Homo sapiens: one gene and its partners. The protein of the gene in region 2 interacts with the protein of the main gene of each other region in a pairwise test. Each region holds a gene or a part of one and is shown on either strand. Other genes may lie near its edges.

What was found.
Region 1: the proteins of PID1 (region 2) and THAP1 interact in binary tests that used the Homo sapiens proteins (3 or more experiments, as listed by UniProt).
Region 3: the proteins of PID1 (region 2) and NOTCH2NLA interact in binary tests that used the Homo sapiens proteins (3 or more experiments, as listed by UniProt).
Region 4: the proteins of PID1 (region 2) and BANP interact in binary tests that used the Homo sapiens proteins (3 or more experiments, as listed by UniProt).
Region 5: the proteins of PID1 (region 2) and GOLGA2 interact in binary tests that used the Homo sapiens proteins (3 or more experiments, as listed by UniProt).
Region 6: the proteins of PID1 (region 2) and CBY2 interact in binary tests that used the Homo sapiens proteins (3 or more experiments, as listed by UniProt).
Region 7: the proteins of PID1 (region 2) and CRX interact in binary tests that used the Homo sapiens proteins (3 or more experiments, as listed by UniProt).

The regions. Positions count from the first base shown.
Region 1 is NC_000008.11:42,836,174-42,840,325, reverse strand, and holds the end of THAP1 (THAP domain-containing protein 1), read left to right. Parts: intron 1-944; coding exon 945-1,140; intron 1,141-1,989; coding exon 1,990-2,364; 3' UTR 2,365-3,652; downstream 3,653-4,152. UniProt on the Homo sapiens protein: DNA-binding transcription regulator that regulates endothelial cell proliferation and G1/S cell-cycle progression.
Region 2 is NC_000002.12:229,023,473-229,026,880, reverse strand, and holds the end of PID1 (PTB-containing, cubilin and LRP1-interacting protein), read left to right. Parts: intron 1-772; coding exon 773-1,249; 3' UTR 1,250-2,908; downstream 2,909-3,408. UniProt on the Homo sapiens protein: Increases proliferation of preadipocytes without affecting adipocytic differentiation.
Region 3 is NC_000001.11:146,219,022-146,222,521, reverse strand, and holds part of NOTCH2NLA (notch homolog 2 N-terminal-like protein A), read left to right. Parts: intron 1-3,500.
Region 4 is NC_000016.10:88,006,934-88,010,433, forward strand, and holds part of BANP (protein BANP), read left to right. Parts: intron 1-3,500. UniProt on the Homo sapiens protein: Controls V(D)J recombination during T-cell development by repressing T-cell receptor (TCR) beta enhancer function. Binds to scaffold/matrix attachment region beta (S/MARbeta), an ATC-rich DNA sequence located upstream of the TCR beta enhancer.
Region 5 is NC_000009.12:128,259,008-128,262,507, reverse strand, and holds part of GOLGA2 (golgin subfamily A member 2), read left to right. Parts: intron 1-750; coding exon 751-840; intron 841-946; coding exon 947-1,054; intron 1,055-1,248; coding exon 1,249-1,336; intron 1,337-1,705; coding exon 1,706-2,043; intron 2,044-2,318; coding exon 2,319-2,432; intron 2,433-3,116; coding exon 3,117-3,341; intron 3,342-3,425; coding exon 3,426-3,500. UniProt on the Homo sapiens protein: Peripheral membrane component of the cis-Golgi stack that acts as a membrane skeleton that maintains the structure of the Golgi apparatus, and as a vesicle thether that facilitates vesicle fusion to the Golgi membrane.
Region 6 is NC_000013.11:45,705,320-45,708,819, forward strand, and holds part of CBY2 (protein chibby homolog 2), read left to right. Parts: intron 1-3,500.
Region 7 is NC_000019.10:47,841,381-47,843,824, reverse strand, and holds the end of CRX (cone-rod homeobox protein), read right to left. Parts: 3' UTR 501-2,444; downstream 1-500. UniProt on the Homo sapiens protein: Transcription factor that binds and transactivates the sequence 5'-TAATC[CA]-3' which is found upstream of several photoreceptor-specific genes, including the opsin genes.

The DNA of each region.
Region 1 (4,152 bases), on a different chromosome or scaffold from region 2:
CAGACTGATGCTAAGAGAACTAGAAGCCCCTTTTTCCCAGTACGCAGATACAAATGTGCAATCTTTGTCTCTCTGTGCAGCACACAGAAAATTACTGGTAAAAAATATGAATACAGGTTATTTTTTTCTTTTTGAGACGGTATGGCTCTGTCACCCAGGCTGGAGTGCAGTGGAATGATCTCAGCTCACCGCAGCCTTGACCTCCCAGGCTCGAGCAGTCCTTCCACCTCAGTCTCAGCCTCCTGAGTACCTGGGCACATACCACCATGCCCAGCTAATTTTTGTGTCTTTTGTAGAGACAGGGTTTTGCCGTGTTGCCCAGGCTAGTCTCGAACTCTTGGACTTAAGTAGTCCCTCGGACAGTGGCCTCCCAAGTGCTGGGATTACAGGCATGAGCCGTGGGCACATTTACTCTATAGTATGTATTTTACCTGAATCTTTTGGTGAACTCAGTATAAAAAGTTAAACGTTAATGAATGAGGGCCAGGCACAGTGGCTCACGCATGTAATTCGAGCACTTTGGGAGGCCAAGGCGGGCAGATCACAAGGTCAAGAAATCGAATCCATCCTGGCCAACATGGTGAAAGCCCATCTCTACTAAAAGTACAAAACTTAGCTGGGCGTGGTGGCGCACGCCTGAGTCCCAGCTACTTGGGAGGCTGAGGCAGGAGAATCGCTTGAACCTGGGAGGCGGAGACGCAGTGAGCCGAGATTGCACCACTGCACTCCAGCCTAACAACAGAGCAAGACGGCATCTCAAAAAAATTTTTAAAAAATTAATAAATGAGATAAATAGATAACTAGAGCTAATCTTTAATCCAATAGGATAATACAATTGTAACATCTTTAATACCAATGTAAGATATTTCCTAAGCTGGAAAGTTTGGGTGCCTTTATTTATTTAAAAAATCAGGACAGATAATTGAATTATGCCTTCTTCTTAGGTTTCCTCTTACTCGACCCAGTCTTTGTAAAGAATGGGAGGCAGCTGTCAGAAGAAAAAACTTTAAACCCACCAAGTATAGCAGTATTTGTTCAGAGCACTTTACTCCAGACTGCTTTAAGAGAGAGTGCAACAACAAGTTACTGAAAGAGAATGCTGTGCCCACAATATTTCTTTGTACTGAGCCACATGACAAGGTAATATGCATTTTAAAATATTGGGTTGCTTTTTGTTTATCAAACTGATGTGTTCATTGATTAAAATGTGGAAAATTGAGTTAGTGTTAAGAGAATAAATGTGCCTGGAACCTTGTAGTTAACAGTGATACACTTCTGAAAACACAAAATGCAGTTTATTAAAGATAAATATCCTCACACTAAGAAACTTAGTCCAGCTTTGTAACTTAGTTAAAAACCACTCTGTACTGCCAGTTATATATTGATAAGTTTTGGGTTTTCTTTATCAGTGACAGTTTAGTTTCAAAGCATTTTTTTCTCCTCAGTGCTTAATATTTAATTAGATCTGATGATTCATTTTGTCTCTTTCCTGCACCGTCCCTCTACTTCAGGTAGAAAAGTTTATTCAAACTGAAACTGTTTTCTCATTTTGGAATGTTTCTATACCACTGATTCCCAAAAAAAGTCAGTATTTCTTAAATTCCACAGATTCTTTTATTATTTATTTATTTATTTATTTTTTGGAGACAAAGTCTTTGTTGCCCAGGCTGGAGTGCAGTGACATGATCTTGGCTCACTGCAACCTCCGCCTCCCAGTTTCAAGCAATTCTCTTGCCTCAGCCGCCCAAGTAGCTGGGATTATAGGCGTGCACCACCACATCTGGCTAATTTTTGTATTTTTAGCAGAGACAGGGTTTCACCATGTTGGCCAGGCTGGTCTCAAACTCCTGACCTCAGGTGATCCGCCCACCTCTTCCTCACAAAAGTACTAGGATTATAGGCATGAGCCACTGCGCCTGGTCAGTCCACAGATTCTTTTAAACTGTTTTTAGTTACTAAATTCAAACATACTTTGTATTTTTGTTTTAGAAAGAAGATCTTCTGGAGCCACAGGAACAGCTTCCCCCACCTCCTTTACCGCCTCCTGTTTCCCAGGTTGATGCTGCTATTGGATTACTAATGCCGCCTCTTCAGACCCCTGTTAATCTCTCAGTTTTCTGTGACCACAACTATACTGTGGAGGATACAATGCACCAGCGGAAAAGGATTCATCAGCTAGAACAGCAAGTTGAAAAACTCAGAAAGAAGCTCAAGACCGCACAGCAGCGATGCAGAAGGCAAGAACGGCAGCTTGAAAAATTAAAGGAGGTTGTTCACTTCCAGAAAGAGAAAGACGACGTATCAGAAAGAGGTTATGTGATTCTACCAAATGACTACTTTGAAATAGTTGAAGTACCAGCATAAAAAAATGAAATGTGTATTGATTTCTAATGGGGCAATACCACATATCCTCCTCTAGCCTGTAAAGGAGTTTCATTTAAAAAAATAACATTTGATTACTTATATAAAAACAGTTCAGAATATTTTTTTAAAAAAAATTCTATATATACTGTAAAATTATAAATTTTTTTGTTTGTAATTTCAGGTTTTTTACATTTTAACAAAATATTTTAAAAGTTATAAACTAACCTCAGACCTCTAATGTAAGTTGGTTTCAAGATTGGGGATTTTGGGGTTTTTTTTTAGTATTTATAGAAATAATGTAAAAATAAAAAGTAAAGAGAATGAGAACAGTGTGGTAAAAGGGTGATTTCAGTTTAAAACTTAAAATTAGTACTGTTTTATTGAGAGAATTTAGTTATATTTTAAATCAGAAGTATGGGTCAGATCATGGGACATAACTTCTTAGAATATATATATACATATGTACATATTCTCATATGTAAAGTCACAAGGTTCATTTATCTTTCTGAATCAGTTATCAAAGATAAATTGGCAAGTCAGTACTTAAGAAAAAAGATTTGATTATCATCACAGCAGAAAAAAGTCATTGCATATCTGATCAATAACTTCAGATTCTAAGAGTGGATTTTTTTTTTTTACATGGGCTCCTATTTTTTCCCCTACTGTCTTGCATTATAAAATTAGAAGTGTATTTTCAGTGGAAGAAACATTTTTCAATAAATAAAGTAAGGCATTGTCATCAATGAAGTAATTAAAACTGGGACCTGATCTATGATACGCTTTTTTCTTTCATTACACCCTAGCTGAAGGACATCCAGTTCCCCAGCTGTAGTTATGTATCTGCCTTCAAGTCTCTGACAAATGTGCTGTGTTAGTAGAGTTTGATTTGTATCATATGATAATCTTGCACTTGACTGAGTTGGGACAAGGCTTCACATAAAAAATTATTTCTTCACTTTTAACACAAGTTAGAAATTATATCCCATTTAGTTAAGTGCGTGATTTATATTCAGAACAACCTACTATGTAGCGTTTATTTTACTGAATGTGGAGATTTAAACACTGAGGTTTCTGTTCAAACTGTGAGTTCTGTTCTTTGTGAGAAATTTTACATATATTGGAAGTGAAAATATGTTCTGAGTAAACAAATATTGCTATGGGAGTTATCTTTTTAGATTTAGAATAACTGTTCCAATGATAATTATTACTTTTATATTTCAAAGTACACTAAGATCGTTGAAGAGCAATAGAACCTTTAAGACAGTATTAAAGGTGTGAAACAATGGCATTCAAAGTGTCTTTTGTAGAACTGGTTTTCATTGTAGTTCACTGCCATGCTGCCAGTGGATAGCACTGTGATTCATGCATATTTGATGTTTTATGAACCAGTATCTCAAAAATAGAAATAATGATTAGAAGATTACTTGAAGTTGGGCGGGGCGCCATGGCTCACGCCTGTAATCCCAGCACTTTGGGAGGCCGAGGCGGATGGATCACAAGGTCAGGAGTTCAAGACCAGCCTGGCCAATATGGTGAAACCCCGTCTCTACTAAAAATACAAAAACTAGCTGGGCATGGTGGCGAGTGCCTGTAGTCCCAGCTACTTGGGAGGCTGAGGCAGGAGAATTGCCTGAACCCGGGAGGTGGAGGTTGCAGTGAGCTGAGATTGCGCCACTACACTCCAGCCTGGGCAATAAAGCAAGACCCCGTCTCAAAAAAAAAAAAAAAAAAAAAAAAAGATTACTTGAAGTTACATAGTCTGATAACATCATTTAGAACTCATGCTGA
Region 2 (3,408 bases):
TTTAAAAAGACAGTATTTGAATCGTTTGGAATTATTTTTCTTAGTTTTCATACTGCCTACCTAGCTAGGTGATAAGCCAGCATTCTACTCTTGATTCTTCTGTAGATCTTTCATTTATTATCAGATCAACAGATGCTCATCAGTTCAAAAACAGTTTAGGTTAAAAAAGAACTGGGCACTGCTGTTATTTTTAAAAATTATCTTGGGAAGGAAAACTATCATGCTTTAGGCCATAATTTCAAGAGAACAGTTTTTGCGTCCTTGGCATTAGAAGCAGGCAGCCTAAGTGAAATCAAACATTGAGAGATTTGGAAAGAGACCCAGGCTAGGAGATAAGTTTAATAAAGATTTTGTTTTTCCAACTCAGTGTCCTTTTGATTCCTTCCTATTATTCAATTCTGTGTGTGTTTGGCCGAAAATAAACTTTGAGTGACTTTATGATGTTAAAGGAATGCCAAATTATGTAAAAGATCATACTCTTCGTTTTAATTGGGGTTTAAAAAAGGAGTAAGGAGAGGGAGAGTAGTTCTCTAGAAATTAGATTTTAAAATCCAACTCTATTCAAATAATTTCAATACATTTGCCAAGTAGGCAACTCATTAGAGAGAAAAGGTAGAAATTTTGATGAGTTATTCTTTCAGGGAGCAAGAAAGAAGTGTCTTCACCTTCCCAATGTGACACCATGACTGTGTGGAACAGCTACTCATTCAGTCTATCAGAACAAAGAGCCTTCTGCTGATGCCTCCCTTTTCTTCCTCTCTTGCATCTGCAGGTTACCTACCTGGGCAAAGTCTCCACCACTGGCATGCAGTTTTTGTCAGGCTGCACAGAAAAGCCAGTCATTGAGCTCTGGAAGAAGCACACGCTAGCCCGAGAGGATGTCTTTCCGGCCAATGCCCTCCTGGAAATCCGGCCATTCCAAGTTTGGCTCCATCATCTCGACCACAAAGGGGAGGCCACAGTGCACATGGATACCTTCCAGGTGGCCCGCATCGCCTACTGCACCGCCGACCACAACGTGAGCCCCAACATCTTCGCCTGGGTCTACAGGGAGATCAATGATGACCTGTCCTACCAGATGGACTGCCACGCCGTGGAGTGCGAGAGCAAGCTCGAGGCCAAGAAACTGGCCCACGCCATGATGGAGGCCTTCAGGAAGACTTTCCACAGTATGAAGAGCGACGGGCGGATCCACAGCAACAGCTCCTCCGAAGAGGTTTCCCAGGAATTGGAATCCGATGATGGCTGAATGAACTTGAGACGCTTCAGCAAAGGCAGCATTGGTCACGGAGTTCAAGGGAATAGATGAGTAAGCAACGTTTCAAATTTGGGATGAAAAGACTGCCAAACTATTGGCTGACCAAGGTTTTTAAATTCAGAAGAGCAATTCTAAATCTAAAGAAATGTATCATTAAAGTAATTACGTTACATTGAAACCTGCTGCTGCTGTGACTGTGAGGAGGGTGGGAGTGTGGATGGGGAGGAAGGTTCTAGGCTCTCTTATTTTTCTCATTTCCCAATGCCTCTCTGTGGGAGAGCTCCATGCCAGTTTTCACCACGCTCAGGCAAATACTCTGCAGCTGTTATTGGATGGGCCATTCCGATCTGCCTTATGAAATTCCACAAGAATGTTAGGGGCACCTATGGGATCTCTAGTGGGGTGGGCAGGGTGCTGATGGGGACGCTGGCCGCAGGGAGGAAGGAACATCTCGGGAGGGCCCTCTGTTCCTCTCCCACGGCAGATGCCCTCCTCTGTATGCAAATCAGCACAGCCTTTATTGAGCTTTACAACTAACAACCTGATAGTTGGCAGTTAATTCACAGTTACAGATAATGCTTTTATTTACATAAATATACCAAGTAGTACCCTCTTATTGTATTCACTTCATCTATTTTCTTAGAATACTTGCAATTACTAATGACCCCTTCCCTTTCCCTCCTGCTGCCCTGTCCACCCTCTTTCCCCTTCTAACATCCTTAGAGGGATGAAATCTCAGCATATGTTGCAGGACACCAAAAGGAAGAAAACAATCAAGCAAATAAAATAAACAGTCAAACAAACCAGGAGTTTAAAACAACAACCCCAACAACAGAAGCCTTGGCAAAGAGGAATAAGTGATCAGCAAGTGAACACACTCTATGTCAACTCTCCTTTTATCCAGCTGAGATTTATGGTAACTTATTTAATTAATGGTCCTGTCTGATGCATCCTTGATGGCAAGCTTCAAATCTGATTTGGTATCACCGAGGAAACCTTGCCCCCATCACTCAGCATTGCACTTAGATACAGAATGAGTTAGATAAACTTGGCTTGTCTAGAGACCCATGTCATCTTAACCTAAAGGGAAATCTTATTGCGTTATCATAAAATTGATGATATCTTAGGGTCAGAATTGCCCTTTTTTTTTATTTTGAATGGGAAGTTCTCACTAAAACAATCCTGAGATTTCTTAATTTCATGGTTCTTTAAATATTATAAACACAGAGTCAACATAGAATGAAATTGTATTTGTTAAAATACACACATTGGAGGACAAGAGCAGATGACTACTTTTCGAAGTAATGCTGCTCCTTCCTAAAAGTCTGTTTTCAATCCTGGTAATATTAGGGGCACTGCGGCACCTAAGAAGCCTTAAATGAGAGCTAATCCAATCTAGAGAGCGATGGTGTCAGCATTTCGGTCTGCATATCTGTGTGTCCGTATCTGCGTTTGTGTGCGTGTACGTGTGCCCCTGTGTGTGGGCCCAGTTTTCAGGCATGTAGAATAAGCATGGAGTCATATTGAGGAGGACTCACTTCTTGAAGATATGCTTGTTGCTTTACAACATATGTAAGCTATTCTTTAGCATAAATGCATTCATTCTTTAATAAAAATATGTTTGCATTAATAAAGCTGAGGAGTTTCATACTTTGTGTCTGTCCTTTTTCAAGTAATAAAAACATGAAGAACAAATTAGATCAAATAGTTCTATCAAAAAATATATTTAAACTGGGTCATAAATAACCTATTCCTGGATTGCGTTTAAAAATCTTGTTTTATTTTCTAAATGCTCAATTTGTTTTTAATTTTTGCATGCCCCTGAGATGGTGAAGTGGCAATAGTTGAAATAGTTCTATAGTATGGTGGGTTTGTTTCAGTGCGGGGTCTTCCAGAACATGTTGCAAATGATTGCTATTTACAAAAATCTCGTGTATGTCTTTGAAGAACCTAGACTGAAATCCTGGAAGGTAAACACTGAGTGATTTTTTTTCTGATGGGACTGGTTAAAGAATGTCTCCTCCAGGCTATGATATCTCAGAATGGCCCCATTAAACAAGCAAGACAGGTGGCCATGGAGCCTATGTTTTTTGAGCAATGCCCTTCATGGAATCAATAACAAATATAAAGGCTTCCAAAGTAAAAATATA
Region 3 (3,500 bases), on a different chromosome or scaffold from region 2:
ACAATCTGCAAGAAGGGGCACAGGATTGCTCCTCTCACAAAGACACTTGATAATACTGTCCTTGATAGGAAGAAGGAAGTGGCTTCAGATCTGAAAGGATATGCTCATAGGCTTGAGACGGGACAAACTGCATCACTGGTAGTGGTAGGAGGTTTGCCGTAGATCTGTTTTTTCTCCTGTCTCTCTTTTTTGAGGAGAATATTATCTGTATGGCAGAACATACATTGTGGTCTTAAAAAGGAGAGTAAAGCCAAGAAAGGGGGATGATAAAGCCATAGCTTGGAATAAGAAAAGCAAAGGAATTATTGTATTAATTTGTGTATGTAAATACATAGGTTTCCATGTAATTCACTGGTAGGATCACTAGCCCTTGGCACTAACATTTGCTATCTTTGTAGCTCTGCTGTCTTAGTGGTGTATTGGGGGAGCATTGTGGTGTGTTGTCACACTTAATTTGTGTGCTTCCCTTGGCATCATGTGGTAGCAAGTACAGGGTATTCTACTCTTCTAGATGTGTGGGAATCATTGACCAAGTAGAAAATATGGTCCTGCTCCCAAGGAGCTGACATCATCATGGAGACAAGACAGATAAGCACACAATTAGGAATATGAAATACAGTTATTTTATCATTTATCTATGCTCTCTGAAAGCAGTTTCCTGCAGTCAGGGTGACTCAGAGCTATAGGGTCTTGGGAGTAAACTTCAGGTCTTAATACCACCAGGGAAAGGCGACCTCCAGCTCACCCTTGCTGGGCTTGTCTGCTGTCGTGAGCTGTCTGCCATTTTCCTCTTTCTGTGTTGTAATTTAGAAGTATTAGAACTTGGCTTGGGGAAAAGACAAAAACCCCTTTGTCTGGTGAGGGTGTAAATATAAATTTGGCACATGTTGTGGTGTCTATTATGTCTGTTAGTGGGTTTGCGGCAAGAGAGAGTGCTGTGTTCTTAGTCCCGAATGCCAAGCCTGAACTAGGACAAGTTATGGTGGAAATATCTTCCTTGGAAGATGCAGTTCTCAGTGGCAGTGGCTGAAGGAACTTCTCGTCACAGCCAGGCAGTGACTGAAGTGTGGTGTGGACACACCCAGAGTTGCTGCCTCAGGTGGCATTGATTAATCATACTAATATCTCCCTCACCCTTTTGTACTTGTCTTGGCAAAACCCTGTTCTACTAGCTCCCCAATAGTTTGGCCTTTACTAGGTATGATTGAACAAGCTCTTGGGGGTTCACCTTAGTGTCCCTTGCCCCTCTCGCATTTCCAGCCAGCTACGTCGCTCCAGCCATGGTACCCCGGGTCCTCTGGCCAGGCAGTGAGGGGCTGGGTTTTTCTTCCCATTGGACTGAAGCACCTTTCCCTGGAGGCTTGCCTAGGGCAGTTTCTGGTCTCTGAGTCAGTTCCTTCTGCAGGATACTGGCAGCTGGCAGAACTCTGGGTTATTTGAATACATCAGCCAAACATCTTGCCAAGATGGACTCATTGTTGCATAACGACAGGTTGGATCTATGGGTGTTGCAGAACCTGTTTCTGGGTTAAGAGTAACTCTCTCACCTTTATTATATATGTTTATTCATATGATGAATGTATGTGTGTATTTTGTGAAGTAAGGAAAACATGATGATAATATTGTGGTTGGAGTTAGATACCTTATCCTAAATATGTTGTCTTTTTAACAAATAGCATTCCTTTAAAATACAGTTGTGCTTGATGAATAAGGTGTTGTACAAGAAGCTGTGGTTACATTCTAAAATAAACTGCCTTGTTCTGAGGCAGGCACGTTTTAAAATTGTTGTTTGCTTCTTTTTCATCTCTTTTTATTTTCATCTTTTTTTGTGTGAGAAGATTCTGGAAGTTTTTAAGCCTCAAATATTTTCAATAATCTATTTTAACGGGTACCTAGCAGGGAGAGGTTGTTCTATTGGTATACCTAACCAACATTCAAATAAGAATAATTGAATACTGTTTACTCACTAATCTATTCTGTTGAGTTTCTAAGTATGAATAATCACAAAACTAGATAGTGCTGATATATTAACTTCTCTAAATGGTAAATGTGGTAAGTAGCAAAGACATTTTTGTTTAATTCTCTCCTTACACATGCTTTGGTTCAGACGCTGTCAAGACACATTGAAGTTTGAGGACATGTGTATTTCGATTATTTTATTATATTTTTATTTGCTGTGAATATGGGTTTATTTATTTGCTAGATCTTCTTTAGTTAGAAACATTAAGGGCATTTACTTTATTACAACATTTAAAGTGCATTCTAATCTTCATGAGGAATTTTAGGTAAAAGACCGTATCCTGAGATTCATGCAAGTCTTTGGCATTATGTTACTATTTAAAGTAAGTAATATGTAGTGGCTTCTCTGACATATTCTTTCTAAGAGAGTTAAGGAAAATAGTTGTAACTAAAAGCAAACATTGAAACAGTTTAAGGTAGGTTTACGTAGCAACAGAATTATTCGTTATGTTTACAGATAATTAACTCATATTTATACTTTGCTGATTTTCTCTGGCACCTTTACAAGATTTTTTTATTTTTGTAATATAAAAAGTAATTATGTTTGAAAAAGTAGTTAAGGATGTTTGAAGAATCTAGAAAAGCATAAATAAAATGTCCACAATCATGCTGCCATTAATTTTTTGGTATACGTCTTTGGTTTTTTTACCCTTAGATTTAGAAAAGCTGTTGATTTATTTATATATATATATATATTTTTTTTTTTTAGTTTATGAACAGATCTACATATATATATATGCACACACACATAATATACTATTGTCAACACTAGGTTTTATTTTTAAAAATCTTTACCATTTGATAAGTGGTAAATATTACTTAATCTTAATATGCCTCTCTCATTACAGTGATATTGAATGTTTTTTCATATCATCAGTGGCGTTTGTATTGCCTTTTTTCCTACTTCTTTTGTAAATTGTGTCTTTTACTCATTTAATTATTTTCTTACTGGTTTGAAAAAGCTCTTTAAATATTAAGGGTGTTAGTCTTTTGTCTTAAATATGTCACAATATGTATGGAAATAATTAGCAGTATATAACATAACATCAAATTGCTACCAATGTTGATATAAAAATTGTTCATTTCATAGGTTAATTTTTTTTAATCCTTTGGTTTCTAATGATATTGGTTAATTCATTTGTTAACTGCTATTTTCTGTAGCTACTTGAAAGTTCTTATCTGACTGTATCGTAAATCAGCATGCTTTCAGCTGTATATGTCTAGGAAATTGACATTTACTTTAATACTTAATAAAAAAATATGTTGGAGAAAAGCAGTGTATTCTGGAGTCAAATACATGATTTTGGGTGGGTGACGTAATCGGCTACTGTCCTCCTTTTCTAGATAGCCAAGATTTTTGAAGCATTTAACATCCCTGAAAGGCAGGACTAATGCTATGTCTACCATGCACTGCTAATTCTGACACTTTGACCTAATGGATAAATGCCAGTACAGTGGGTCTAGCCAGTTAGCTTGGTCAG
Region 4 (3,500 bases), on a different chromosome or scaffold from region 2:
AGAGACTCTGTCTCAAAAAAAAAAAAAAAAAAAAAAAGATAGTGATACAGTATAAACATGAAGATTAAAGGGAAAATAACTGTGATCCCACCATTCTGAGATCTCTAAACCTTTTGGGGTTTTTTGGTGCACATTTTATGATTTTATAACTCACTTCTTTCCCCTACACAGTAGAAATCTTTCCACGTTAGTGCAGATGGACAGAGTCATTTTTAGCCAGTTTTGCTTATTTCATCAGGTCTGGATGCTTTCCAGGGATGGCCCCCTCTAACCTTTCGTTATTGAAACTAGCATTGGCCTGCTGTGTTTTCATGTCTCTTGGATCAGTGTCTGGACGTGGGCTCTCAGAGGCAGGTTGCTGGGCTAGAGGACGCAGCTTCCACGGGTTCCATGGCACAGGATGCATTGCCCATTTCCCCCGAGATCTGGAAGGATGTGAAGCTGTTTGTCCTACTTGGACTCCTAGCGGGGGCCTCTCTCCTGCAGGGCTCTGAGGTGCCCTCCCGCCTGGCCCTCGGCCTGCCCAGTGTGCCTTTCAGAGCCGTCTTCCCCTGAGAGCCTCTGTGTGCCCTTCATCCTGTCACCGTAAGTGACCAGATGACTGTCAGTGACTACAGCGTGGAGAAAAGAAAGAACCAAACAGACTTAGCTTTGTGCGTGGAGTTGTAAAGCATGTGTTTTCCTTGCTTACTAGGAAGAACTCAGTTTTTCTGCATCTGCGTCTGAGTTGTTGATTTTTCCTAGCAACTCGATGTTGCTTTGTCTAGTGAACAAAGGCTTTCCTGTTAGGAAGACTCATTACCGTATCTGAAACATTGAAAACAATGTCTTCCACAAAAATTGCTTTTACCTCTAATACAAATTGCTAGGATTCAGATGGCAGAATGGAGGGAAGAGAGAAAGAGACGTTGAGTTGATCTTTTTTTTTTTTCCAAGTTGAGATCTAATTTATATACCATAAAATTGACTGTTTTAAAGCATACGTCTCAGTTGTTTTTAGTATATTCTCAAGGTTGTACAGTCATCACTTCGGACTAATTCTAGAATATTTTTTATTACCCCCAGAAGAAGCCCTGTGCCCATCAACAGTCACTTTCCATTCTCCCAGCCTCCAGCCCCGGCACCCAGCTCATCTCCGTCCTCGTGGATGTGCCTGTTGTGGACCTTGACTCTAAATGGAATCCTGTGGCATCACCCACATTGTAGCTTTTGCCCAGTGCTTTGTTCCTTTTCATGGCTGCGTGATGTGCCGAGGTATGGATGGCCCTCATTCTGTTGATCCATCATCAGTTGATGGGCATCTGGGTGGTTTGCACTTTTTGGCTGTTGTCAGGAATGCTGCTGTGAACGTTGAGGTGCAGGTTTTTGTGTATGTATTAATTGCAGGATCAGGGCAATGGAGTTTTTCACACATGAAATTTGAGGAAAGGAGGGATGCTCCTGATTTCATTTTCATAGAAATTGAAAATCACATTGCAGTAACGACAGACTAATTGTTGTAATTATTTTTGGATGTGGATTTTGTATAAATCCCCACATAGATCTGGCCACCCCCTTCAGGCCTGATGTTTGTTTGATTGAAACTGTGTTAGCTAAGGCAAAAAAACTTGGTAATTCTGGGGAGTCCAGGGTCATAAAAACAAAAAAATCTAAATGAACTTATGAGACGATATCAAATTTGGAGCTTACTTAGTATTGATCTGTATCTATAAGGAAAAATACAAATTTTCTTTGTGTCTGAGTTTAAGTTTTTTTGATGTTTTGTGTAAGACATTTTTCTTTAGCTAGGCTTTGAGCAGAGTTTTATAGCCATCTTTACCACTGATTGTTCTCATCAAACATAATTTTGCTGTACAACACAGGTTGTTAGGATTGGGGTGAACTGCAGAACTTTTTCTCATCTTAAATTTGACTTTATTTTGAAGGAGAGGTCATCATCCAGAGCCATTCTGTTTTCTCATCCCATTAGGAGGAAACATTTTTTGTAATAAATCTGTTTCACTGACTGTCCTTGGGAATGTATATCCCAGTGGGGTCGGTGTTATGAAAATATCTGCTTGAGCTGCCTTATTTGGCATAGTGGCTTGGTGAAAATGAGGAAGTCACCTTTAAATGATTGCTGTGTATGTAAATGTTGGGAAAATAGCCAATCCATTAATGTCTCTTATGTCAGATTTAATCTCAGCCCGTAGTGGCGTCCTCTCTTCAGCACTTCCATGGGGGGTGCGAATGTGCCGAGAATGGGGCCAGCATCTTCCTGCCTGTGGCCCTCTGTCCCAGAGCACCTGGGCAGGTGGTGAATCAGCGAGTTTCTACGAGGGAAAGCATTAGGAATATGGGAAGTGCTAAAGGGGGTGTGCTTGTCTTTCTATTTAGTTGTTTTAGGCCCTGATAAGAAATAGGAGCCGCAGGAGACAGATTGTTCTTAGCTTCTTATTTAAGTATTTAAGTGCCTTAAGTCTTAGAGAACCACAGATTTCAAAACGGTTATTTCTTAAGAATTCCAAATGGCTTGTGTGAATTGACATGCTGTTTTGTATCAAATTTGGAGTCAGTTTATTGTACTGCAAAGATACCATATCATTTTATTCTAGTTTTTTTCACTTAGGTAATTCCGTTTGTCATTACACACGCTCCACTGGAATAAGAAGGATGGTAACTCTCAGCTATTGAAAGCAGGGAACAGTAGACTGTGTCTCATTGGAATAAGAAGGACGGTAGCTCCTGACTGTTGAAAGCATGGAACAGTAGACTGTGTCTCATTAGAATAAGAAGGACGGTAACGCTCAGCTATTGAAAGCAGGGAACAGTAGATTATGTCTCATTAGAATAAGAAGGACGCTAACTCTCAGCTATTGAAAGCAGGGAACAGTAGACTATGTCTCATTAGAATAAGAAGGACAGTAGCTCCTGACTGTTGAAAGCAGTGAACAGTAGACTGTGTCTCATTAGAATAAGAGGGACTGTAGCTCCTGACTGTTGAAAGCATGGAACAGTAGACTGTGTCTCATTGGAATAAGAAGGACTGTAGCTCCTGACTGTTGAAAGCAGGGAACAGTAGACTATGTCTCATTGGAATAAGGACGGTAGTTCCTGACTGTTGAAAGCAGGGAACAGTAGACTGTGTCTTCATTCTTGTGCTTGCCTTTTGTCAGTAGTTTTGGTCTTGGTGTGCTCATAGCTTTGTTTTGTACTTGAAAGTGTGTGGGGCCTCATCATTCAATGACTAAGCTGCCAGCTGAGTTAGAGAAACAAGTTGAGCTAAAATGGACCTAGCATGGGATCTGTTTGTCCATTAAGGGATTTAGTTAGGTTCTTAATCAAGAGTTTAAATTTCTGCTGTGTATGCATTTGATAATTCTTACAAAACGTGACTGATCCTATACATAAAATGTTAGGTACTTCATTTCAGTGGGGGAAGGATTGTGGTTGAATTCTAATTGAATTATTGCCAGGAATTGGTCCCATGGACTTCCCAGGCAGTAGAATGACTTACGTGG
Region 5 (3,500 bases), on a different chromosome or scaffold from region 2:
CTAGGGATCATGCAGGGCATGGGGAGACTCCAGCCAAGAGCTGGAAAATTTGGGTCCTTGTTCCGGTCCTGGCATAAAATCCTCTAGAGAGTGCTAAAAATCTACAAATTGGGGACCTGGGGAATCAGAATCTTAGGGTTAGGGCTTAAGACAATTTTTGTTTTGTTTTGTTTTGTTTTGTTTTAAAGCATCATGGGTGAAAACCATTATTTTAGAGATTACATTTATATGGCTAGCTCATGAGTCTGTTTATTTCCTTCTGAGGTTCAAGCCAACACTTTCACTAATAATAGAGAGTAGAGATCTTTTTTTTTTTTTTTTTAGACGGGGTCTCGCTCTATCACCCAGGCTGGAGTGATACTTACTGCAACCTCTACTTCCCAGGCTCAAGCCATCCTCCTGCCTCAGCTTCTCAAGTAGTTGGGACTACAGGCGCACACTACCATGCCTGGCTAATTTTTGTATTTGTAGATACGGGGCTTTGCCATGTTGCCGAGGTTGGTCTTGAACTCCTGAGCTCAAGCAATCCACCCACCTCAGCCTCCCAAAGTGTTGAGATTACAGGCATCAGCCACCATGCCTGGCCTGAGATCTTTTTAAAATTATTTTTTATTTCTAAAGCAAAGAAACTTGACAGCAGAGTTGTATTGACTGAGTTGCACATTGAGCCTAGCCCTAGCCCTTTTAAGGGGCACTATTTGGAACGGCCTGGGCTCCCCAGATCTAAACTTCTCGCTCTTCACCATCCAGTTTTCAAGCCGGTGTGAAGCCCCTGATGCTAACCAGCAGTTACAGCAGGCCATGGAGGAGCGGGCACAGCTGGAAGCACACCTGGGGCAGGTGAGGCTTTGCAGGGGAGGGATGTAGAAGGAAGATGACCCCAGGTGGCCAGGAGTAGGTGACAACCAGTGACAGTCCTTCCTCATTTCTGTGGCCATTCTTGCAGGTAATGGAGTCGGTTAGACAACTACAAATGGAGAGAGATAAATATGCGGAGAATCTCAAAGGAGAGAGCGCCATGTGGCGGCAGAGGATGCAGCAGATGTCAGAGCAGGTGAGACCTGACCCTTCAGCTCCCCCTCAACCTTAGATAGGTCACTTGATCTTTCTGGGCATCTGCGAAATGGGAGGAGCACAGCCAGAGGTGGTCATGGGTCTGGGCTTTGTGGCGGTGGGGGCAGAGGGAGATGGTAGCCTGTCCAGCCACCAGCCCCTCTCCAGGGCCCTTTCTTGCTGTGCTTTGGGCAGGTGCACACATTGAGAGAGGAGAAGGAATGTAGCATGAGTCGGGTACAGGAGCTGGAGACGAGCTTGGCTGAACTGAGGAACCAGATGGGTAAGCTGGGGCTGGGGTGACCTGGGAGCAGGAATGGTGTCAGAGGGTTGTGGGGGTGGTTTAGAATGCCCCAGGGAGTTGGGTGGATGGAATGGCTTTGAGGCAGAGGGAAAGAGGTCTGTGCCAGGAGATGGCAAGTCTCGTCATCTCCATGAGCCTCAGTGCCCCATCAGCAAAGACGAAGGAGTGCCCGTTGTCAGCCACCCACAGTTGTCGCTATCGGAAAGTGGTTTGGAAGATTGGCTAACATCCGGGTGCGAGGAATCATCAGCAGGGAGGCCAAGTTTGGGGAGCTTGAGAGGAGGTATGGACCAAGAGGAGGGTTTTTTTGAGAATCCAGAGGCTTTTATTGTCTGCGTCCTTTCTCAGCTGAACCCCCGCCCCCAGAGCCCCCAGCAGGGCCCTCCGAGGTGGAGCAGCAGCTACAAGCGGAGGCTGAGCACCTGCGGAAGGAGCTGGAGGGTCTGGCAGGACAGCTTCAAGCCCAGGTGCAAGACAATGAGGGCTTGAGTCGCCTGAACCGGGAGCAGGAGGAGAGGCTGCTGGAGCTGGAGCGGGCGGCCGAGCTCTGGGGGGAGCAGGCGGAGGCGCGCAGGCAAATCCTGGAGACCATGCAGAACGACCGCACTACCATCAGCCGCGCACTCTCCCAGAACCGGGAGCTCAAGGAGCAGCTGGCTGAGCTGCAGAGCGGATTTGTAAAGCTGGTGCGCTGCCCCACCTGGAGAGCCCGCCCTCCTCCCTAGCCCTCCAGACCTTTGTTTTCCCACCTGTAAAGTGGGGCAGTGTAGCCCTCACTTGAAATGGTACTTCTGGAGGCATCTGTGAGCCAGAGCCCTGCTCCGATGGCTGTGGGGGAGAGGGGATGATTTTTCTAACCTGCCTCCACCCTTCCCGGTGCCATGGGAGGCAGACACCAAGGCAGCAAGTTCTGGGGTCTCCAGCTGCAGTGGGTGGCCGCTGATTGCTTCTCTCTGTCCAGACTAATGAGAACATGGAGATCACCAGCGCACTGCAGTCGGAGCAGCACGTCAAGAGGGAGCTGGGAAAGAAGCTGGGCGAGCTGCAGGAGAAGCTGAGCGAGCTGAAGGAAACGGTAACCCCGCCCCATCCAAGAAGGGCTGGGAGGCGGGCACCAGCCTCTGGGGAGGGGTGGTGTGAGGCCAGAGGCAGCTCCAGCCTGGGGCACAGGTGACCCCAGCACCCTCCAGGGCAGTCCTGTGACTGTTTCTTGCTCCCTGCCCTCTGACTTTTAGAGGTGGATAGCTTTGGGCTCCTCTCAGGTCTGGACATCATCGTCCCAGCTAGAGGCATGGATTTCTCCCAATCACAGGGGAAGAGACAGCGGCATAAGAGGCTCCTTAGATTCAAACTGGATTCTGGCCTTTGCTCCACTGGTCATCATTCAACTACTTTGCATCTCTAAGCCCCAGTTTCTTTAACTTAAAAAGGAAGTTAGCATCTTCCTTGCAGAGGTGCTGAGGATTCAATGAGATAATACGTGGAAAGCATTAGGCATGTAGCACACTTAGCAGATGGTGGTTGGCTCCCTCTGCGTTTCCACCAGTCTGTGGCCTACGGTTTAAATGGTGGGAAGAAGGATGTGAAATTTGAGGCTGGGGAAGGAGGCACGAGGCTCTAGACAAGGGAGGCAGTCACTTAGGCCTGGAGCAAGGGGCCAGAGGTCTGGGCAGGTGACAGAGCCCTCGCTACCCTATTTATGGGCCCTGAATCTGGAAGCAGGCCACCACCTGCCCTCACGCCCAGGGTCTTCCTACAGGTGGAGCTGAAGAGCCAAGAGGCTCAAAGTCTGCAGCAGCAGCGAGACCAGTACCTGGGACACCTGCAGCAGTATGTGGCCGCCTATCAGCAGCTGACCTCTGAGAAGGAGGTGCTGCATAATCAGCTACTGCTGCAGACCCAGCTCGTGGACCAGCTGCAGCAGCAGGAAGCTCAGGGCAAAGCGGTGGCCGAGATGGCCCGCCAAGAGTTGCAGGAAACCCAGGTGAGGGAGTTGGTGAGGGCAGGGCCCCGAGGGGGACAACCTGGCAACCTCCATGCCTTCTCACTCTCTTTTCTGGCCCCTTAGGAGCGCCTGGAAGCTGCCACCCAGCAGAATCAGCAGCTACGGGCCCAGTTGAGCCTCATGGCTCACCCTGGGGAA
Region 6 (3,500 bases), on a different chromosome or scaffold from region 2:
AATTTCATTAAGGCATTGTTTACTCCTAGATCATTAATGAAAGAGCTACACCAGGTCAGACTGAGCTCCAATAGCACCCTCCGGTGCCTCCTTCATCCTTCCCAGTTGCCTTTTCTCCTTCCCCTTTGTTTGTGCTTGTTACTCAGAAGCAGTGAATTCCTGCTGACAGCACCCGCCAATTTGAATTCCCAGGAAGATTTCAGGAGAGTCTCTGTTAAACAGTATGCAAACATACTACATATGACATCTTCTTTATCCTCTTTGCTGTTAACGTTGTAATTCTGTCAACATCAATCACATTTACCTTGTGAATTATCCTTTTACCTGTTAGTATTTATTAAAACCACCATTGACTTTGCCATGGTACCAGGGAGCTGAATTAATTTAAAATAATGATAATGAGACTCAGCCTTGTCATCTCATATGAAAATCAGTATCATATTTGGCTTTTCCTTCCAGAATCCTGGGTCCTCTCAACTTCACATGCTTTAATAGTACCTCAGATGGCTGAATGTTCTCTGATAGTAACCCTCAGTAATGTTGGCAAAGTTGGTGTTTAAGAAACTTGGTCAGCAGGCTTGGACTCTATCAGCAGTGTTTGGACATCTCTTCTGGGCTGTGGTAGCCACATTTTTCCAGGGGTGGAGAGACATCAGTGTGTGTCAGCTAAGCCTGGCTAGTTGCTGTTCAATCCCATCCCCAAACTCTTTGGATGGGAAACCACACCCCCAGTAATTCTATCCCAGAAGGTCCCACCCAGAGAGACCTGTTGCTACAAGTCCTGTAGCACTAGTAAGAGATTTTGGTCCTTTCACTTCCCCTTTTCCTTTTGCCCTTTGGCCTTTGCATTTTGCCTCCCTTCTTTCAATTGTCCCCTTCCCCCATGTTCTTCACTTGCCACCAGGTTGGTGATCTGACAAAGACACAGTTGTTGGCAGATTTCAGGCATTTTCCTTCCAGGACCACTTATATTTACCAAGGAGGGCACCAGACCTAATGCTAAGGAAGAATTCCAATCCACAGATGGGACTTCAGGCTTCTGTGAGGGCGATGTTCGTGCCCATGGCCCTTCCTGGATCCCTGTCACTAATGCATCATTGGGTTACAGCTATGAGCACATTTCCCCTGAGGACAGAGTCTCTTGGCACCTTTCTAGCACCCGACAGGAAGGCATGATGAGCCCATGACCAACTTATTCCCCTTCTGCATCAGCTTCATATCTCATTCCTCCATGAAGAAGCCAACCTTTTTCTTTCCTACCTACTGGATCTCTATGTGAGGGCATTTCCTAGAGACCAGAAAAGAGACAATCTTTTATTTTCATGGTCAGTTGCACCATGCTACACAGGCTGTACCTCCCAGGCTTAGGAGAACATTACTGGGGTGTTCTTGGGGCTTTGTATTGGCATAGACCTCTTGTCAAGGGCTAAAGGATATCAGGGCAGGTTAGCTTGGCCCATGAAACCAATCCAGTGATACCACTGGTCGAGGAGTCCTACTGAGAAGGAACTGGCTTCTAACATAGGCCAAGGAGGTCTGGAATCCTGGAACTGCATATGTTCGCTGAGCTCAGATGCTTAGTTTTTGGGTAGCCCTTTTGTAAAGAAATATACTCCACGTTGCATAGCGCTTTAGGCTGGGTATGTTTAAACCTTACCAGTAGAACTGACCATCTGTTTAGTCTTTATGACAGCTTGGCTACCACTTTCTTGTCCTCTGGCAACCCCAGGAAGTAGGCAGAGCAGCCATGTTTAGGCTTATTTTAGAGGTGACATTCTGAGAGGCAAAATGACTTTCTCAAGAGCAGTCAAAGGAAGGACTTTTGAGCCCAAAGTTACTGGAAATTTAGGGCGTTTACCCTCGTTGGATTATATATTCAAGATGATGAAAGGGACCACTAGCGTGCTTGTGTGCAGGGGGTGGTGGGAGCTTCCTCTAAGGGAGTACATGGATGAACCTAGGGGTTTGTGGAATTCACGTGAGGAAAACTCCATGCTTATAGATTTTACATCATACCATAACAGCTTTGCCCTGGGACTATTTTAAAGTCTTAAAATATGAATGGAAATGAGGATATAGCTTATCAAATACACTAACTATATTAAGGCAAAAGAAATGGCCATTTTTGTAGGCCAAAAATGGTAAAATGTTAACAGTTTCTTATGGTTCAACCTAGTATTTCCTCCCAATCTTTCAGTGTATTTTGGTTGATTCAGTTATTGCCAAGGACTCATTAAGCCTCCACCACATGTGAAATTTGCTTTCTAATTCCCAAGACTTGGGATGTCACAAAAACAAGGGATAGGTCACTGTGCTTAGATAATTGCAACTTACTCATATGGGGAGAGGACAGGCCTGGTTGTAAGAGAACCATTGCAAAGTAATGATATTAGCACATGCAAAATAAAATGTCTGAGCATTGTGAAGTGCTAGAATAAACATGGAGTTTGGAGTCAAATATCCTCATTTTAAACCCTGGTTCCACTCCTTTATCAGCTATGTAATCTTATGCAGAATCATGCCAGTTCTTTGGGTAAGATATTACATATGAATACAGAAATCAATTAGCATATAACCTGACACATTATAGTCACTCAGTGTTATTTTTTTTCTTGTTCTATATAATCTTTCTCTAAAGAAATGCTAAGCAATGTCTCTTCTAAAAGCCCTTCTTGTATGTCTGCAGCTCTTTATAAACAAAGAAAATGTTCCGAGTCTCCTTTTATTTCTGAACAACAAACCCTCTGAGAGAAGTAGGGCAGATGTTGGTGAGGTCGTTATAGAGGGTTGTACAGGTTGTGCCCTGCAGTAACAGTGAATAGCGCCTTTTAGAGTTGGGCATTTCAAAAATATATGGGTTGGCCCTGATTCATTCATGTCAACATCCACATTTTCTAGGAACTAAGGCACAGAAATGAAGTGACTTTGTAAAGGTCATGCACTCATATAGTGCAGAGCCAGAATTCTCTGGAGATGTTATCATTTCTAGTCCCCTATTCCCCACACCTTGCTGCCTGCGTTAATGCTTCCTGCATTTTGACTTCTCTCATTTGCATCAAGAAGTAATTGGTGCTATTCACTGATTCTTCAAATCAACTGGAAATTCCCTGAGGGCAGGGTCTGTGAGCTTGGAACACAGTACGTGCCAAATTAATGTTAGTTGATTCACTGACACTAATGTAGGGGAAAAATTGGTGCAATAACATCCTGAGTGGGTACATGACTAGGGTGAAGAATTTTCACAAGGCCAAGAGCTTTCCTTTAAGGATTAAATCCAGCTAGCTCTGATCAGAATCAGAGAAATGCTACAGGAAAAAACAAGTTTGTTCTGGATCAATGTTTTCCTGAAGTTCAATCATGATCCTTGTCATGTCTAAAAATGCCTGTATATTTAATATAGGTATGTTTTCCCATTACTCATTAAAATAAGTATATGACTACTGAAAAATTTTTAAATGTTCTAAGAAATTAAGCCATGAGGAAACACTGCACTTGACCAC
Region 7 (2,444 bases), on a different chromosome or scaffold from region 2:
CCTCCTCCTCCTTCTTTTTTTTTTTTTTTTATTTTTTGTTTTTGGAGACAGGGTCTCTTGTTGCATCACCCAGGCTGGAGTGCAGTGGTGCAATCATAGCTCCCTGCAGCCTCAAACTCCTGGGCTCAACCGATCCTCTCATCTCAGCCTCCCGAGTAGCTGGGACCACAGGCACACATCACCACACCCGGTTGATTTTTTTAATTTTTTGTAGAGACAGAGATCTCGCTATGTTGCCTGGGCTGGTCTCAAACTCCTGGCCTTAATCAATCTTCCCTCCTCAGCTTCTCAGAGCACTGGATTACATGCGTGAGCCACTGCACCCAGCCCCTGATCCTTCATAAATTGGCTTTAGAGAGATGTCAAGGAAAGGAGGGTGATGAGACAGGAAACACATGGAGGGACCCAGGCCCCACAGACAGAAGGAACAGAGTAGTTCCTGTTTCTACCTGCCCCTCCTGGAGAAAACACGGAAACTAAAGAATCACCCAGACTTTAAATGAGATCCAACATTTTAATTGGTTTCACTCTGTGGGTGGACAGAGAAGGGGGACCCAGAGGCCAGTGTGTGGGGAAGAGGAGGACAGATAAGGTGACACCTTCTCAGGGAGGCTCCTGGCTTCTTCCTTCTGTCCCCACCTGCCTTGTCACTCTTCCTGGCTTTAGGACGTAGAACGTTTGAAATCCCCTGTGCACAGCTGGAAGAACCAACACTCAGGAGCCCAGCCCAGGAAAAGCAATCTGTAACCTCCTAGCTGGATTTGGCTCCCTGCCCTCTCCGGCTCCTGGTGGAGTCTCAGAAGACCCCAGGATCAGGCTCTCTCGAAGTCTTACCCCATCGGCCTGTGATGGGGGCCCCTTGGCCTTCACTACTTCTCACTCCTTCCCAGAACCTTGCATGCATCCTTCAGTCCCTCCCCAACTCCCATCAAGTTTCTATGACTTGTTTGCACAAGACACAGCCTCCCCGGTGAATAAGGAGAAGATTCTCTTCCACGCCTGAGTCCCGGCCTCCAGTGCAGAGCTTCCGTGTCTCCGAAGAATGAAACTTATAGTGGATTCTGGTCCCAACGTTTGCACAGACCCAGGGCACAATATTGTCTCATCCCTGCCCCTCCCGTGTGAATTTTGTCTAGCTCCCCCAGCCTCCCCAGTGACATATGTTGTCTTCCTCTGTTTATATTTTCATCCCACACTGGACTCTTGAGCCACTCCTGGGTTATTTTTGTTGTTGTTATTATTGAGACGGAGTTTCGCTCTTGTGACCCAGGCTAGAGCACAGTGGCACAATCTCTGCTCTCTTCAACCTCCGCCTCCCGGGTTCCAGCAATTCTCCTGCCTCAGCCTCCCGAGTAGCTGGGATTACAGGCGCGTGCCACCATGCCCGGCTAATTTTTGTATTATTAGTAGAGACAGGGTTTCACCATGTTGGCCAGGCTGGTCTCGAACTCCTGACCTCAGGTGATCCACCCGCCTCGGCCTCCCAAAGTGCTGGGATTACAGGCGTGAGCCACCGCACCCGGCCCACTCCTGGGCTTAATGTCCCAGAACCCAGCATGACTCAGGCCTATGAGAGATGAACACGTTTTATGTTGAATAAAAACCTCTTTGTGGGCTCTAGAGATCAGGGTGTACCCCTCAGGGGGTCTAGGCTGTGTGCACCTCTTCTGGTCTAGTGCTGGAAACGTCATCTGATACCTCCCGGCCTCTCTTCACATCTCGCCTTTCTCCTGACCCTGGCTGCTGCTGACGGTGTGTACCAACTCGTAAGCATATATTGTGCCCTATCTCTTCCCAACTCTTAGTTCAGTGACCTCCGGTTGCTAGCTTGAAGTCAGCCGTGGTGGGAGTATTTACACCACGGAAACTGACAAACACTCCACAACCAACCTTTTCCTCTTCCTTGGAGAGCCCATTGTTAGACCTCTGCCAGCACACCACTGTCTTCCTGCCCTACTTTTTTTTTTACACCTTGCCTTGTGAACTCCACCAATGAAGGGCTCTTGGAACCCGCCTCCCCACCCAAAAATGAAAGGAGAACTCGGACTGAGAAGGCAGGGACCCAGCACCCAACTTCTGAGCATCAAATGACCTCAATCCGTCTTCAGGTTCTCACAAGTGCTTGCCAGTGTCACCATAAGTAAGATTCTATTTCAAGAAATAATGGTGCCACCCCAGGAAAATGTCCTCAAGCCAAGCTCTATTTTCCAATCCCACCATCAAAACTGAAAACCAAAAAAAAAAAAAAAAAAATCTAAAAAAGGGAATGTATGTTTGAAATGTAGGGCTGCCTCCTCCAAATCTATTTCCCCCTCTTCCTATCTCTTGTTTATTTACAGATGGGAGTCTGTCTAGCTGCTGCTTCTCTGTGAAATAGCCACAACTATAGGTGGTACGTCCCAAGCAGCTACCCCAGTTCCACCAGTGTCTCACCTTTAGAAAAT